Regions from separate parts of the Homo sapiens genome. Here region 2 is linked to region 1. Evidence: fine-mapped expression QTL. A gene starts in region 1. The other region holds a variant in brackets. All regions are shown on one strand. Distances are between the middles of the regions.

Region 1 (8,332 bases):
GTCTGGAATCACTGTCCTCAGCATTTGATCACAGCTCCTTGAGGGCCTCACTATTCTCCAGGAGGCTGGTGGGACTAGAGCTTGAAAAAGGGAGTCCCACCTGGTGCTTTGGAAAGGGGTGATGTCATCTCCAGGCCCCTTTTACTTCTTTCCCCTCCTCTCCCTCAAGCTTTAGCATTAGGAAACTGTCTTCTTGGAGATGTCCTCCCACCCTACCCCAGCCCGACCCCCAGCCTTTTCAACTAATAAATATACTTAGCCTCCCCCATGTCACCTCTGAATTCTAGGGAGGACAAAGGCCAAAGGACTCAAGCTGGATCAAGGTCAGGCTCCCTTACCCTGATTGTGTGTCAGGGCGGTCCTGGTGAGTGGGGCTGGCTCAGGCAGCTGCTCCAGGATCCATTCCAGGTGCTGGGTAATTTCGGTGAAGGGGGCACGGGTGCTGGGTTCCAGCTGATGGGTAGAGACAGGAACGGCTTCACTCAGTGCTCCGAAAGAGGGTCTCTGAGTTTCCTCCCATCACCTGGGTCCCACAGGGCAGCCATGGCAGCTTACGGATGGGGGCAGGGTGGGGCAGGAAGGAGTGTGAGGCTCTTACGTTGCAGCAGTGGATGGCCAGGAGCAAGAAAGGCAGTGGGCAGTCATCCCCCACCAGAGTTCGGAAAGCAGGCACATCCAGGCCAAAGTCCTGTGGGGACAGAAGGAGGGACCTCCAAGTCAGCTTTTCTTGGGTTCTCCTTCTGCTCCCCAGTCAGAACCTCAACCTCTAGGGAATCCTCCTTGGTTATGAGCCAGCTAGTCTGGAATTCTTTCTTTGCAAACCTAGAAACATTCACCTCAGTGCGTGGTAGGTAGTCAGGGTCTGCAGGTACTCGGGCGATGAGCTCACAGAGGACAATCCCGAAGGCAAAGACATCAGCCTGGGGGTCAGAGATAATAGTGTCGGGGAAGAATTAACAGTTTTCATTTCAGAATTTTGACAGAATATAGCAGAATTTGGTTGAGGGTGGGGGATCTTGACAGTTTTCATGTGTTAGAAGGGTGCCTGTGAGGGGCAAAGGGATCTTGGGGACTCCTGAAGATCTGGTAGGGTTGTTTTGGGGATGGATGGGGCTTTATGAGAATACCTCAAGGGTCTCGGAAGGCCTTGGGGATCTGAAGGGTTGATGTCTCACCTTCTCATCATACAGCTCACCCCGTAACACCTCTGGAGCCATCCAGTATGGGGAGCCCACCACGGCCAATGGCTCCTTCCTTGCCCCCTCCCTGCAGGGGCAGGGGCAGAGTGGTCAGAAGCATCCTATTCAGGCATCCCCCCCAGGCAAAAGGGGATGAGGTGAACTCCCTCCGTTCCCCAAGGGAAACATCCCTGGGGCTCTGGGGACATCAGATAGGGGCACTCTGGGAGATTTGGGGGGAACAGGGACATTCATCTCACCTATACACAGGAATCTTTTCGGCCAGCCCGAAGTCACCCACGACAGCGGTGAAGCCTCGATCTTCCCGTCGGACTAGACAGTTCTGACACACACACACATAGTATCCCCACGCACTCATCACCTTCTGCTGTCTGGCCTCCCAATGTATAACCCAAAGCCCTGTCACTCCAGCATAACTCCAACCCTCTCTGCTCTCCCAGTTTTTCAAGGCACTTCAATATTGCAACATCATCCAACACTCCAAACACAGGGTGCTACTCAGTCCCTCCGAGCACTCCCCTCACCCTGGTCCCCCAATATTCTCCAATGCCTTGCCACTCCAACATCCTAATATATCTGTTATCCATATTCCAACATCCACAGGCCAGTTACAACCTAATAGCCTCAAACCCTCTTTCATGTCTCCACCCACCCTGCTAGCCTACCTTGGATGTGAGGTCGCGGTGAAATACACCTTTGGAGTGCAGGTACCGCAGGCCTCGGGCAATGTCCAGGGCCAGGTGGAGCCTGACCGGCCAGGACAGGGGTTCAGGGGAGCTGAGCAGCTGTTCCAATGTCCCCCCATTCATATACTGGTGCATAGGAGGAGAATGGGAATAGATGTCAGACTTCAGTCTGTATTCTAGGTCCCCCACTTACACGCTAGGGGACACTCCCGAGGATCACAGAGGTCATAGGGGTAAGACTGTGCTGTAGGACCCCCCCCATCCATGTTCTAGGATTGCCCCGTTCAACTCAATAGCCATTAGCCATGTGCAACAATTTAAATAATTTAAAAAATTTTTTAATCAAGTTGACCCACAAAAAATAATCTAAACAATGAAAATAATTTAAATTTAACCACATGTGGCTAGTGGCTACTGTATTGGACAGCACAGATAGAGAACATTTCCGTCACTGAAGAAAATTCTATTGGACAGCACTGTTCTAGGGGATACAGAGAATAAGACCAGTTGAGGCCTTTTATATGTGGTTTGCCTAAAGGAAAGTTCAGGAAAGCCTCCCCTGAGAGGAGATCCTGTTGCCTCTCACTAGTCCTCCGTAGATCCACCAGGCCTGTTGACTCCCTTTATCCTTGGGGGTGAAGGGGGGTGGGGATCCCTCCTTCCTGGCCTATCCTCACCTCTGTAAGAGCGTGCAGCTGTCCCTGGTGCACACAGACTCCCATGAACCTGCAAGAGGATGGGGAAGATAGAAGGATAGGCTATTAAAGGCCTCAGCTCCTCCTCAGTTCCACTTTTCCCGCGGGATCTTTCCCTTTCTCTCCCGCCCAGCAAGCTGCCCAGAGACTGGGGCCGCTCACCTTAGGATGTTGGGGTGCCTGAGCCGGTTCATCAGCTGCACTTCCCGTAGTGTGTTGCCCCGGTTACTGGGGAGCTTGTTCATCTTCAGCACCATGACTTGCCCTGACTGTCGGTGCCGAACCTGGGGGCAGGAGCAGCCGGCGAGGGCCGGGCAGGTCGGGCGGGTCGCCGGAGTCTGGACCCTCTTCCCCGCACTCCCGGCCCCCTAGTTTCAGCCTCTGGTTGAAGGCTCGGTCCCGCCCCTCTGCCCTCTCGGCCGGTCCTACCTTGTAGACCTCAGAGAAGAAGCCGGCCCCGATCTTCTCCGCGCAGTGAAAATCGTCCACACGCGCCAGGCTAGACACGGCGCTGCGGAGAGCCCGGTAGGAGGAGGGGCGGCCCCGGCCCGGGCCTCCGCCCGTGCCCCCCGGCCCCGGGGGCCCCTCCCCCGGCACCTCTCCAGGCCCGGGCCCAGGGCCCCGCAGTGGGGGCCGTTCCCCGGCCATGGCCGGGCCCCCAGCCCGGGCCTGCCTCACATGGCAGGGTCCCCAGGGCCCGGGCAGGCCGCGCTTGCCATGGGCGCGGGCCCAGCCCGATCCCGGGCGCCCGGACTCCGGCTCCCGCCCTGAGAATGGAAGATCCGCCGAAGATCCTGGACCCGCCCCCGCCGCGCCGGCTGGCTGGGCCCGGGTGGACGCCGCGCCGCTCCGCTCCGCGCAGGGCCTGGGCTTGGGCCTGGACCGGGCGGTGGCGGTGACGGTGGCGGCAGCGCTCCGGGGCGCCGGCGGGCTGGCTTGCCGCGGGCGGAGGCGGGCGGGCGGGCGGGCGGCGGCTGCTCCGCTTAGCCGCCGGGGATCAGGCTCCGCGGCCTGCCGGGGGCGGGGCTGGGCCGGGCCTCCGCTTAACTCCTTCCAGCCCGGCCTCCCGGCAGCGGCCACGCCCCCTCAGGTGCGCACCCCCGCCTCCCCGCTTTCCGGCCGCGATGCCCTGGGCCGCCCGGGTCAAATAAGCTCCGGCCTGAGCTTGAATAACGGGAGGGAATTAAGGGCTGATGGTGCGCATGCGAAGCTTAGCTGCCCAGGGAGTCCCCTCTCCTCCCTGGGTTACTGTCCGTTGAGGGTCGGGCTCAGAAACCTGCCGGATTCCTGGGCTCCAGGGACCAACGGGGCAGAAAGGTAGGCCCCTCAGGCCCAGCCGCAATCAGAGGTAGCCTAGCAACCTGTCCACCTTCCTGGCCTGCGCCCCGGCCCAGCCTGCCCATTTCCCAGGTCTCTTCGACTCCGACACCTTGAACCTCTGGCCTCCCTAACACCTTCTACCTTCACGGGAGGTTGTGATACCCCGGGGCTATAGGAAGCCTTTGGCCGGCCCATACCCAGCTTAGCCCCGACTCCTCCTCACTTCATCCTGCCGCCTCCCAATAAAGAAGAGAGTCCAGGTCCTCCGCCCTGTGACCACCCAGCCGGGACCTCCCTCTTACTACTTTGCCCAAAAGACTCTAAGAGAGAAGCCTCCACCTGCAGGGAAGCCCGTCCTTCCGCAAGATCCCACCCCCCTCAAAGAACGCTGTCCCTCGGAGACCCCTCCCTTCCTCAGTGAGACACCTCCCTTTCGGGGGCACTTTTCCCCAGTGTGGCACTGCCACCGTCAGTGTGTCAGAACCCCTCAGTGCTGCACCCCCTTGCTCTGTGTTCCTCCCACGCAGTGAGACCCCACCTCCGAGGAAATCCACTAGTCATTGTGACCCCTCCTCTCAAGGTGACTCCTCCCCTCAGTGTGACCCAGCCCTCCTCAGTGTGAGGGTTCCGCCCTCCACGTAGGAACACGGTCTGCCCCCTAAGGCCGGAGGAGGGGCTGCAACTGGCCTCTTTAAGTCGGCGCGGTGCCTGGGTGCGCACGCAGTCTCAGGACTCCGTGCACTCGCCGTACCAGACGCTTCCGGTTCTGCCGCTGGTTCCTCCTCCGGCCTCGGCGAAATAGCCAATCATCGCTAGGGTTGGGTGGTGACACGCGATCCCGGCGGTCCACTCCGGGGCAAACGGTTTAAAAGGGCGTCGTTGAGCCGCCTGCCACCTAGCGGCGGAACGGTGGGCGGAGGGAGAGAAAGCTGCCGTCTCGAGTGCGGAGGCAGGCTGAGAGCTCCTCGAGGAAGCGAGGCTGAGTCCTGCAGGAATTCTCAAGTACTGTATTGATATTTCTGTAGTAAGCTTAAAAGAGAATTAATACAAGCACAGTCCGTATCGCGTGGGGTTACCGTCTTCCAATGGAGTCTGGTTACACGTTTATGAGACTTGGAGCCAAGAAATACTACTCGCTTGTCGAGGGCTACTGAGAAAAGAATAAAGACGGTCATAAATGATACATGATGCCTTAGAGTCAAGAGAAGGCCAGATGCTGTCTTGGTGCGCTGTACAAGGGAAGGTATTGCACAAGTTTGGAGCGAGAGGAATGGGAGACATTCGCAATCCTTCCACAGCCGGTGGAGGCAGGCCAACCTCACAGAATTGCACGGGGCACGTGCATCCTGTTCTTTTTTCTGGAGGCGTTTGGTCTTCAGCACACGCTCATTCATCACATTAATGTTAACATCTACAACTAATTTGTGAATTTGCTTTTTATTGTATGACATCTGTAAACACTAGGAATTTATGCCTCATTTTGTTTAATATCATAGATCTTTTAACCGACACTGGGTTCTGGCCCTTTATCACGTTTGAGAATTACTGTAGTAGTTGGTGATGGTAATGCCAAGCCAAAGAGCCAGGTGCCTATTTTTTGTAAGATGATTGCGGTGGTTGTATGGAGGCCGGGAGACTGATTAGGAAGGAGGCTGTGACTGTGGTTCAATCAGGAAAGGATGAGACCAGCCTGGCCAACGTAGTGAAACCCCGTCTCTACTAAAAATACAAAAAAATTAGCCTGATGTGGCGAGCGCCTGTAATTCCAGCTACTCTGGAATCTGAGGCAGGTGAATCGCTTGAACCCGGGAGGCGGAGGTTGCAGTGAGCCAAGATCGCGCCATTACACTCCTGTCTAGGCGACAAGAGCGGGACTCTGTCTCAAAAAAACCTTTTGTTGTTGTTTGTATGGTGGAAAATGTCTTAACACACACACACAGAATAGAAAAATGAATGTTTATTTACCTTGGATTAGTAAGACCATTTTGTTGGAAACCCATAGTGCAAAATTGGCTTTCCTTTGCCTCAGTTGTACTGTTGCCATATTTGACCTGGCCCAGGTGAAAGTACCTACTTTCATTTACCCTTCTATGTCAGTGATTCTCCAATGAGCAATTCATGGCCAATCTTGTTTCATCTATACCCGTGCCCTCTTCCCCACTCCATATTTGTGTATATTTCTGACATATCATTTCATCCTGTAAATGTTTCAGTACGTTATCTCTAAATGATAAGGATTCTTCTTTAAAACCAAATCACAGTATTGTCACACCAAAAAAAAACAATAGTTCCTTCATGTCATCAAGCATCCAGTTGTTTACATTTCCCTCACTGTCTTACGTTTGATTTTTAAAAATTGTTTATTTGAATCAAAATCTAAATTAGGTCTGTACTTTGCAGGTGATATGTCTGTCTGTCTGTCTCTCTTTTTGTGAGACAGGGTCTGGCTCTATCACCCAGGATGGAGTGCAGTGGGTTGATCTCGGCTCACAGCAACCTCCACCCCCGAGGCTCAAGCAATCCTGCCTCAGCCTTCTGAGTGGCTGGGACTACTGAGGTGTGGGTACCACCACACCTGTCTAATTTTTGTATTTTTGTAGAGATGGGGTTTGCCACGTTGCCCAGGCTGGTCTCAACTCCTGGGCTCAAGCATTCCATTCGCCTTGGCCTCCCAAAGTGCTGGGATTATAGGTGTGAGCCACCACACCCAGCCATATGTTTCTTAAGTCTTTGCAGATCTATGCTTATTCTCCATCTTTTTTCTTACTATTTTTTAAAACTGGTTCATTTGTCCTGTAGAGTTTCTTAGAGTCTTGATTTCTGTGGTAATTTAGCATGTTCCTCCATCCTCTGTATTTGATATAAATTGGTAACTTAATCAAATTTAGATTTCTTTTGGCAAAACTAATTTGTAGATGGTTTTAGCACTTCTATCAGGAGGTATACAGGAGGTATACAGTGGTGGTCTTTTTGTGATTTTAATAACTGATATTTGTTTCTCAACCGTGGCACTATTGACATTTTGGGCTGGAAAATTCTTTATTGTAGGGGCTGTCCTGTGTATTGTAGGATGCTTAGCAGCATCTCTGGCCTCTACCTAATGGATGCCAGTAGCACCTCCTCCTGACTGTAACAATAAAAAAATGTGTCTAGACATTGCCATTTGTCCTCTGGGGGACAAAATTGACCCTGAATAAGAACCACTGGTCTAGGTTCATTAATAGAGGAGTTAAAGCTGGGCATGGTGGCACGCGACTATAGTCCCAACTACATGGGAAGTTGAGCCGAGAGGGTTGCTTGAGCCCAGGAGTTCGAGTCCAGCCTGGGCATCATAGCAAGACCCTGTCTCAAAATAAATAAAAAGTTAGAAAATAATATTATCATTCCTTCTTTGAATGAATTCCTATAGAAGTATTAGGTAGAATAATTCTATAAGGAGAAACTTTTCCACATTAACTATTTGTTACACAGAGATACATTTCCTAGGAAAGGCAGAATAAATACTTGATTGTTTCTCACTTATTTTACCAGCTTTCAAAGTAATGAGTTGGTTCCCCAGCATCTTCCAAAGTTGACCGATGAGGTTTTTTTTAAAGTACCATTATGAACTCATAATTTAACACATATGTGATATACTCAATTATTGCTAGTTATCTTTTTTTTCTTTTTGAGACGGGTCTCACTCTTTTTCAGGCTGGAGTGCAGTGGCACAAAGCTCACTGCAACCTTGACCTCCCGGGCTCAAGTGATTCTCTCATCTCAGCCTCCCAAGTAACTGGGACTACAAGCACGTGCCATCACACCTGGCTAATTTTTAATTTTTTTGTAGAGACAGGGTCTCACCATGTTTTGCCCAGGCTGGTCTCAAACTCCTGGCCTCAAGTGATCCTCCTGCCTTGGCCTCCCAAAGTGCTGGGATTACAGACATGAGCCACTGCACCCAGCCCAGTTATTGATTGATTGATTGATTGAGATGGAGTCTTGCTCTGTCACCCAGGCTAGAGTGCAGTGGTGTGATCTCGGCTCACTGCAAACTCCGCTTCCCAGGTTCAAGCGATTCCCCTGTCTCAGCCTCCTGAGTAGCTGGGATTACAGACACCTGTCACCACGCCCGGCTGATTTTTGTATTTTTAGTAGAGACAGAGTTTCACCATGTTGGCCAGGCTGGTCTCAAACTCCTGACCTCAGGTGATCCTCCTGCCTTGGCCTCCCAAAGTGCTGGGATTACAGGCGTGAGCCACTGCGCCCAGTTATCATTTTTGGTGCTTGTCCTATTGTTACGGGATCTTTGGGGCGTCCTTTTTCTGGCCAGAAACCTCTGTGGCTGGTGGTGCTTTTGCCCCAGTTTTGCTCAGGCCCTCTGGGCTTGTTTCGCCTACCCAGCCTGGCAGCCTGTGCTTGGCTCACGCTACCAGCCTGGGTCCCATGCCTG
Region 2 (8,332 bases), 37 kb after region 1:
TTCTGGAATAAATCCTACTAGTCTCTTTTTTTTTTTTTTTTTTTGAGGGTCTCTCTCTGTTTCCCAGACTGGAATGCAGTAGCACAATCATGGCTCACTGCAGCTTTGACCTCCTGGGCTCAAGCAATCCTCCCACCTCAGCCTCCTGAGTAGCTGGGACTGCAGGAATGTACCACCACATCTGGCTAATTTTTTATTTTTAGTAGAGACAAGGTCTCACTGTGTTGCCCAGGCTGATCTCAAATTCCTGGGCTCAAGTGATCCTCCTGCCTTGGCCTCCCAAAATGCTGGGATTACGGGCATGAGCTACCACACTTGGCTCTACTAGTCTTAATGTATATTATTCTTTTACAATATTACTAGACTTGTGTAGTTCATACTATGTGCCAGACACTTGTGCTTGATGCTGAGGATATAATCATGAACAAGATAGACAGACATGGTTTCTGCCCTTACTGAGCTGTCAGTCAATTCAGGGGTGATAAAGAGCAGAACATTTGCCACCACTCCCCTCATCTGAAGCTTTGGCAGAAATCACTCAAAACATGCTGTCTTGCAGAGTCTTGGAAGATCTCAGAAAGGGGACTGGGATCCTTTATTGGCATCTGCTATGAATTGGAGGAAAGATGACAGTGATAGTAAGCATCCTGCTTTTTTGCTGTTGCTAGTTTGATGTTTTATTTGGTGGCATTTTTTATCTGTAGAACTTGTGTGAGGTTTGTTAGGTATTGAATTTGTTGTCTTGAATTAAGTTTTTGCTAATTTTGTAAATCAAGTGGCGTGTGGGTCTTTTGGTAGGGGCATCTACTTGACCACTTTTTCCATTCTTTCTTTTTCTTTTTGAGACAGGGTTTCCGTCACCCAGGCTGGAGTGCAGTGATGCAATCATGGCTCACTGCAGCCTCAGCTTCCTGGGCCGAGGTGATTTTCTCACCTCAGCATCCTGAGTAGCTAGGACTACACGCCACCATGCCTGGCTGATTTTTTAAAAATTTTTTGTAGAGATGAAGTCTTACTATGTTGCCCAGGCTGGTCTAGAACTCCTGGGCTCAAGCAATCCTGAACCTTGGCCTCCGAAAATGCTGGGATTACAGATGTGAGTCACTGCACCTGGCCCAATTCTTTCTATTGTTATTTTATTCAGATGTTCCATCATTTTGAGTTGATTTTGATTTATATTTTCCAAGACAATATTCATTCTTATTGACATTTTCTAGTTTATTTATATAGAGTTTCACTAGTATTCTTTTGTAGTTAAAACACAAATTCCTGGCTGGGCGCGGTGGCTCATGCCTGTAATCCCAGCACTTTGGGAGGCCGAAGCAGGTGGATCACGAAGTCAAGAGATCAAGACCATCCTGGCCAACATAGTGAAACCCTGTCTCTACTAAAAATACAAAAATTAGCTGGGCGTGGTGGCGCATACCTGTAATTCTAGCTACTTGGGAGGCTGAGGCAGGAGAATTGCTTGAACCCCGGAGGCGGAGGTTGCAGTGAGCCGAGATTGCGCCACTGCACTCCAGCCTGGCGACAGAGCGAGACTCCATCTCAAAAACAAAAACAAAACAAAAAAACCCCCCACAAATTCCTATGTGCCTGTTTTTAGCCACTTCCTCAATCTGTTAGGGGTGTTGTATAGTCTTTCTCTTGGCTAACTTTGCCAGCAGTTTGCTTGTTTTGTTGTTGTTTTAAACAACTCTTATAACAGTTCAATTGTTTTTCTGTTTTCTGATTTATTGGTTTCTATCAGTTTCATTCTCCTATATTTGTTAGCTTTATGACGTTCTTCTTTTTCTAGCCTTTTGAATTGACTGCTTAGTTATTAGCTAGTTAATTTAGTTAGCTGGCTAGTTGCTTTTAGACTCATTTGCCTGGCTAGTCTGTCTGCAGCCTGTCCTGCTGAAGCCATCATGGTCTGCACACATGCCCTCCTCCCTCCCCAGCTGCCTGGTTGAGGTGGTGGCCTCTGCATCTGCAGTGAGGCCAGGCCGAGAGAGATGAGTGAGGTCAGGATGGTGATGCTCACCTGTGTCTGTTTCTCTTTCCTTCTGGGACGCATGGGAGACTATACTTCTGAGTTGCAAAATGTGAACAACTGGTAAGTCAGGTAAAAGTGACATTTGTCTTGCAACTTTTCTATAGGTTTGATATCGAAACTCTGGGTAATTCTGCAGCACACTCTGCTTAAGCAATCACTGTTGTAGAGATGATGGGGGATGTGGGGTGTAGAAATTTCCTGATGAACACATGCATACCAGAGTTATCAGGGAGTAGAAACTAATAGTGACAAGTCCATTTGGAAAAGGGAGCGAGAGAGACAGATAGAGACAGACGGAGTTGAGCAGATGTGCAGAGAGAAGCACCTGGCCCCAGGGTGAGAGTGAAAATAGCTGCCTCAGCTCCTGTTCACTTTCACGTTCTCAATTCCCGTTTCACGAGGCCTAGCTATATGGCAGTCTGTACAGTATACAGTTCCTTCCTTGGATACTCAGGAAATCTATCCATTCTTAAGATATCCTCTCTTCCTTCCACTCTTGGCTTTCTTCTTTTACTTGGACCAGCCAAGGTAGGCAATTGTTTCTTAGAGCAGCTCCCACTAGAACATTTGTTAGTAATGATATTGATAGTTTATTTATTATTGTGCTTTATTGTACCGTTTAAGTTAATCCTTACACTATTAGCATTTTCATTTTATAGAGGAGGGAAAAAGAGATACAGAGAGGTTTGCTAACTTGCCCAAGGTTGTACAGCTCATAAGTGATGGAGCCAGGATCAAGCCTATATATATATATATATTTTTTTTTTTTTTTTTTTTAATTTTTTGAGACAGAATCTCTCTCTGTCGCCCAGGCTGGAGTGCAGTGGTGCGATCTCAGCTCACTACAAGCTCCACCTCCCTGGTTCACGCCATTCTCCTGCCTCAGCCTCCCCAGTAACTGGGACTACAGGCGCCTGCCACCACGCCCAGCTAATTTTTTATATTTTTAGTAGAGACGGAGTTTCACCGTGTTAGCCAGGACGGTCTTGATCTGACCTTGTGATCCACCTGCCTCGGCTTCCCAAAGTGCTGGGATTACAGGTGTGAGCCACCACACCCAGCAGGATCAAGTCTATATTCTTAATCATGAGGCCAGTATGTGTTTGAGGCTAAAAGTTGCCTCTGAATTCATCTTTGATTGAATTCTCATTTATTTATAAATAATTGTGTATAACTGGAATTTTTTCTTTGCCCCAAGGGTTAAGGTGTTTTTGTTTTTTTTTTAATTTTAATTTTTATTTCTTTAAGAGACAGGGTCTCACTGTGTTGCCTGGGCTGGAGTGCAGTGGCTATTCACAGATGTGATCATAGCGCCGCCCTACAGCTTCAAATTTCTGGGCTCAAGCCATCCTCCCGCCTCAGCTTCCCAAGCAGCTGGGATTACAGGAATGCACCACCACGCCCAGCTCAAGGGAGTATTTTTAAATGTCTAAGTGTTAGGTTGGTTGTTTGTTTAGCCTATTTTAAAATTTTAAAATTGTGTTTGTGTGAGGAAATGTGGTTTATTGTGCTTCTTGGAATTTTTGAGATTTTTCTTCATGGCCTATTATAAGATCAGTTGTTTTTGTTTAGATCTTCATTGTGGTATTTATTTTATTCTGCCTTTCTCTGTACCTCTGTCTCTTCTTTAAAGTGGTTCGATCA[C/T]TGAGGTCAGGCATTGTCTGTATTGATCTATAAGGCAACTGCCTAGTAGAAATATTTAATAAGTAGGCTGAATAAATGAATATTGATCCTTGTGGATTTGAGGAGTGTTATATACATAAAAAATCCAGGCCAGGTGCGGTGGCTCACGCCTGTAATTCCAGCACTTTGGGAGGCTGAGGAGGGTGGATCGCTTTAACCCAGGAGTTCAAGACCAGCTTGGACATGGTGAAACCCTATCTCTATAAAAAAAAAAAAATACAAAAATTAGCCGGGTGTGGTGGCATGCACCTGTAGTCCCAGCTACTCTGGAGGCTGAGGTGGGAGGATCACTTGAGCCCAGGAAGCGAAGGTTGTAGTGAGCTGAGATTATGCCACTGCACTCCAGCTTAGGTGACAGAGTGAGACCCTATCTCAAAAAAAGAAAAAAACCAAAAAGGTAGAAAAAGGTAGAATAGAGACCAGGCCATTTCCTTTCCTTCGATCCCTCCAAATACCATGATTCCTTGTCATTTCTACTTGGATTCCCTCCACCACACCTCTTTGGACCTCAAAAGCATAGATTTCAATTGTCATAATCTTTGGTTTGGCACATTCTCATCATTAGTTCATACTTTGTTATAATGTATGCATTATAAGCATTTTTTTTTTTTTGATACAGAGTCATGCTCTGTCACCCAGGCTGGAGTGCAGTGGCATGATCTCGGCTCACTGCAACCTCTGCCTCCTGGTTCAAGTGATTCTTCTGCCTCAGCCTCCCAAGTAGCTGGGATTACAGGTGTGTGCCACCACACCTGGCTAATTTTTGTATGTTTAGTAGAGATGGGGTTTTGCCATATTGGCCAGGCTGGTCTCGAATTCCTGACCTCAAGTAATCTGCCCACCTTGGCCTCCCCAGGTGTTGGGATTACAGGCATGAGACACTGCACCTGGCCCATTATAAGCATTTTTGAAAACATCATCCCAAACAAAAACTGAAACTTTGACAATAACATACATCTAACTATGTGGTTCCCCCTTTCCCACCCCTTTTGTTTCTCACCATCTGAGGTGAGCATTTGAAACCCATTTTTATCATTCCCTTGCTTTCCTTTTTATGCAGTTTTATGCATCTGCATGTATTTTTCAAACTAAAAAAGGTTTTGTGTTGCATGTAATCTTTTGGAGTTTATTCAATTCTTGTTTCAATTTTGGTGGACTGTTGATTTCAGGAATTTTTTCAAAGGTCCTGTGATTTTCTTTTATTCATCCTTGCAGAGGGGATTTATGCTTGCCTAGGGTTGACATACAATCAAATGATTGATTTGGGATCTGTATGAAATTTTATAGCAGTTCCTGGTCAGAATCAAAGGCAGAACAGAAGGCTATAGGCTGCCATTGTGGGGACCCAGCAGGCTGTGTGGACTGAGTGGGGCGCTGTCTCCAGTTAAACATTTTCTCTCCACTGCCACATCCAACACTGGCCACTGGGTGTGGCAGCTCCCATCAGAGCAAGTTGTGGTCATGTTTCTGTGATGTCTGTCCCTGGAAGGAGGCACAGAGGCAGCAAGCATTCCTGTGGTGCCTCAGCTGGCCCCGTCACTCCTTTCTCAGATTAGAACACCCTTCAGGGATCTAGAAATATTCTTTATTCAGATGGAAACAATCATAGTAACAGGCCATTCTACCAATTGGATAGAGCTGTTTCTTCATAAGCCATAAACCTAAGACTAATCCTAATCTGTTTCCTAACTTGTGTTTTAACGCATACCCGGATTCTAACTGCCATGGTCTTTTCTGCAGAATGTGTTCTAGTCCCTACATCCTAATTTATACCCCAACTTCCATTCAAACCTTTCCCTTTTTCAATTTCATGAACCTTTCCCCTGAACCTCTAACATCTGTGACTGCTCCCAGCTCCTTTCCTTCCTCCCATTCCTGCCAAATGCTAGCCGTGAATTGCTGTTTAGTTAGCACTTACCGTAAGCTAGACGCTGGGGTCATTGCTCATTGTGTATCATCTCAGCTAGCTGATATCCTACTCTATGAGATGGTAACATTAGTTTTTCCATTTTACAGATGAGAAAACTGAGGCTCAATGAGATGAATTTGGACAAAGTCTATATCTCTGGTGAAGCTAGGATTTGATCTAGTGGTGTTTTTTTGTTTTGTTTTGTTTTTGAGACGGAGTCTCACTCTGTTGCCCAAGCTGGAGTGCAATGTGCGATCTCAGCTCACTGCAAGCTCCACCTCCTGGGTTCATGTGATTCTCCTGCCTCAACCTCCTGAGTAGCTGGGACTACAGGTGCCCACCACCACGCTTGGCTAATTTTTGTATTTTTAGTAGAGACAGGATTTCACTATGTTGGCCAGGCTGGTCTCGAACTCATGACCTTGTGATCCTCCTGCCTCGGCCTCCCAAAGTGCTGGGATTAAGGGTGTGAGCCACCGTGCCTGGCTGTTTTGTTTTTTAAAGTTATGATGCCTTTGGCTGTAAGTGAAAGAAAACTTAAAGTGGCCTTAATAATGAAATTTACTATTTGACATAAAAAGGCTGATTAATTCCATGGCTCTACATTACCCTCAGGACCCTGGCCTTTCTCCTCTACCATCCATCCTTGATGTGTCCAGGACTTGTCTTCAGGTTAGCTTTCCACAAGGCTTCCACATGCCTGCCAGCATTCCAGCCTCACATCCCCCAAAAGTCTAGGGGCAGGAATGGACATCGTTTCGTCTTGCGCATCTCTGTCTCTCTCACTTGCTCTAATTTGATGTGAATCTTTTCTTTAAGAGCAAAGAAACTTTTCCCAGGACCCTCCCCTGCCCCAGCAGATTTCCCCTCATATTATCCAGAATGCTGGAAGCCCGTGCCTAAGCGGTCATGGGGAAGGAGCATGGGACCACGCTTAGACTAATCCAGCTCATTCCTCCAGGCTGGCTCTCCAAGCCTCCCTGATGCAGTTTCTGGCTCCTCGGAAGAAAGGAGATGGGGGTCAGGAATAGGTATAAGCTGTGATAGTGTCTGTCACAGAATCCCAAGTCTGGTTGTTAAGCTTGACACACTGCTGCTATTCTGGGCTTGCCCCTCGGCTCCCATCCTCACTCTAACATATTTCCTCAGCTGTGAGGTAAGTCCCCACAACTCTAAATGACACATTCTAAGGCTGTCCTTGGCAGAACAGTGAGGAACATGAAATGTGTGCCTTGGAGCCCAGTGCTCTTATGTAATTCCCCTGGGATGTCAGTGCCGTCCTTGGTCAGCGCAGGCATGGTCACTGGAGGTGGGGAGAAGAGCAGAGCTCTGCCTCAGAAACGTGGGCCCTGAGCCCTCAGCCTGGCCCTGACCCAGCCCCAGAACTTTTTGTTTTGTTTTGTTTTTTGAGGTGGGGTCTGGCTGTGTTGCCCAGTTTGGACTGAAACTCCCGGACCCAAGTGATCCTCCCACCTCAGCCTCCTCAGTACGTTGATGTGAGCGTGGCTGCACCCGGCCCAGAGTTGGGTTTTAAACATGTTTCCCCGTCCTCTGAGATCTCATCTTCCTGGTCTGTGCTTTTTCTTCTCTTAGAATCCGAATTTTTTATTTTATTTTATTTTTTTAACAAATTCTAACTTGCTCCCTAGTGTTACCGCCCACACCTACAACAACTTTATCCTGTTTCCTTCCCTCAACCCCCACAGCTTTTCTGGCTCCCATGGAGTGCACACTCGGCCACTGTGGCCGGAGCCTGGCAGAGCCTGGCTCATTTGTTGAATGGATGACTCTGATTATAGCAGGTATTCAGTAAGCCACTCTTGTTAAATTATTGAAAATAAACGATGTTACTCCCTAGAGGTGTCTAGGTTCCTTTTTTTCCCCCATCACCTGTCCTCTTTCACCTCCCCTCTGGGCCCTGGCTTCCCTCAAAGATCCTTTCTCCAGGTCCCCCATCTCCTTTGATGAAGACTCATGAGGAACACAGTGTCCACCTCTCAGGCAGGCGCTCAGGAAGGAAGTCGCTGAGACAGAGCTCAGTGGCCCGAATGGTTTCTGCTCCCTCACCTCCCACGTCCCACCTCCCACGTCCCACCTCAGGGCTTCCTTCGGTTCGGGCCCTGCCCCACGAGCAGGACCACCTTTGTCCTGGACAGACAGACCTGCTAGCCTCTGCTCTACAGTTCTGCCGGCCTTCGCCCTGGCTGTCCTCACACGAGTGCCCCCTCCCTTCTCTCCTCCCTTAGCCCCGCCTCCTTCCTCTAGCCCCACAGCCCTGGACACGGTACACACAGACCAGAGCCTTGGCTCAAAGGCAAACAAAAGGAAATGCCCGGCTCCCCATGGCTGTGGCCAGCACCTTCATACCAGGGCTCAACCCTCAGAACCCTCATTATATCCCAGGGTAAGACTCCCACTTAGCGCTCCCCGCTTGCTGCTGGGAGTAGGGGTATAGGGTGGAGGAATTAAGCTGCTTAGAGCATGGGGCCAAGCGGACAGGTTGGTTTGGGAGGCTGAGGTCTCTATGGTGGTGGATGGAAAAGGAGAAGCAAGGGACTAGTGAGACACCGGGTCTGCCCCAAAGCTTTGTGTTGTTCTCTCCATGGGAACAGGGTAACAGCAGAGGAAGGATCGAAAGCCCAGGCAGAGAACTTAGAAATGCCTGCTCCAAATATATACACTGCTGAGTCCAGAAAGATCAG

What was found.
Region 2: its variant is fine-mapped to the expression of TESK1 in skeletal muscle (GTEx, PIP 0.94).

The regions. Positions count from the first base shown.
Region 1 is chr9:35,600,516-35,608,847 of GRCh38, reverse strand. It overlaps TESK1 (testis associated actin remodelling kinase 1), which reads right to left and starts at 3,586. Exons shown (of 10, transcript NM_006285.3): 1 at 3,010-3,586; 2 at 2,743-2,864; 3 at 2,563-2,611; 4 at 1,865-2,011; 5 at 1,439-1,521; 6 at 1,176-1,266; 7 at 837-920; 8 at 599-688; 9 at 339-453. The coding sequence starts at 3,228. It overlaps MIR4667 (microRNA 4667), which reads right to left and starts at 754; the gene lies at 689-754. RefSeq lists silencers at 2,721-2,980, 2,762-3,056, 2,991-3,160, 3,181-3,480, 3,511-3,760 and an enhancer at 4,241-4,350.
Region 2 is chr9:35,563,469-35,571,800 of GRCh38, reverse strand. It overlaps CIMIP2B (ciliary microtubule inner protein 2B), which reads left to right and starts at 7,923. Exons shown (of 6, transcript NM_001164310.3): 1 at 7,923-8,034. The coding sequence starts at 7,973. RefSeq lists an enhancer at 2,169-2,328. The variant C/T (reference allele first, on the strand shown) is at 3,683.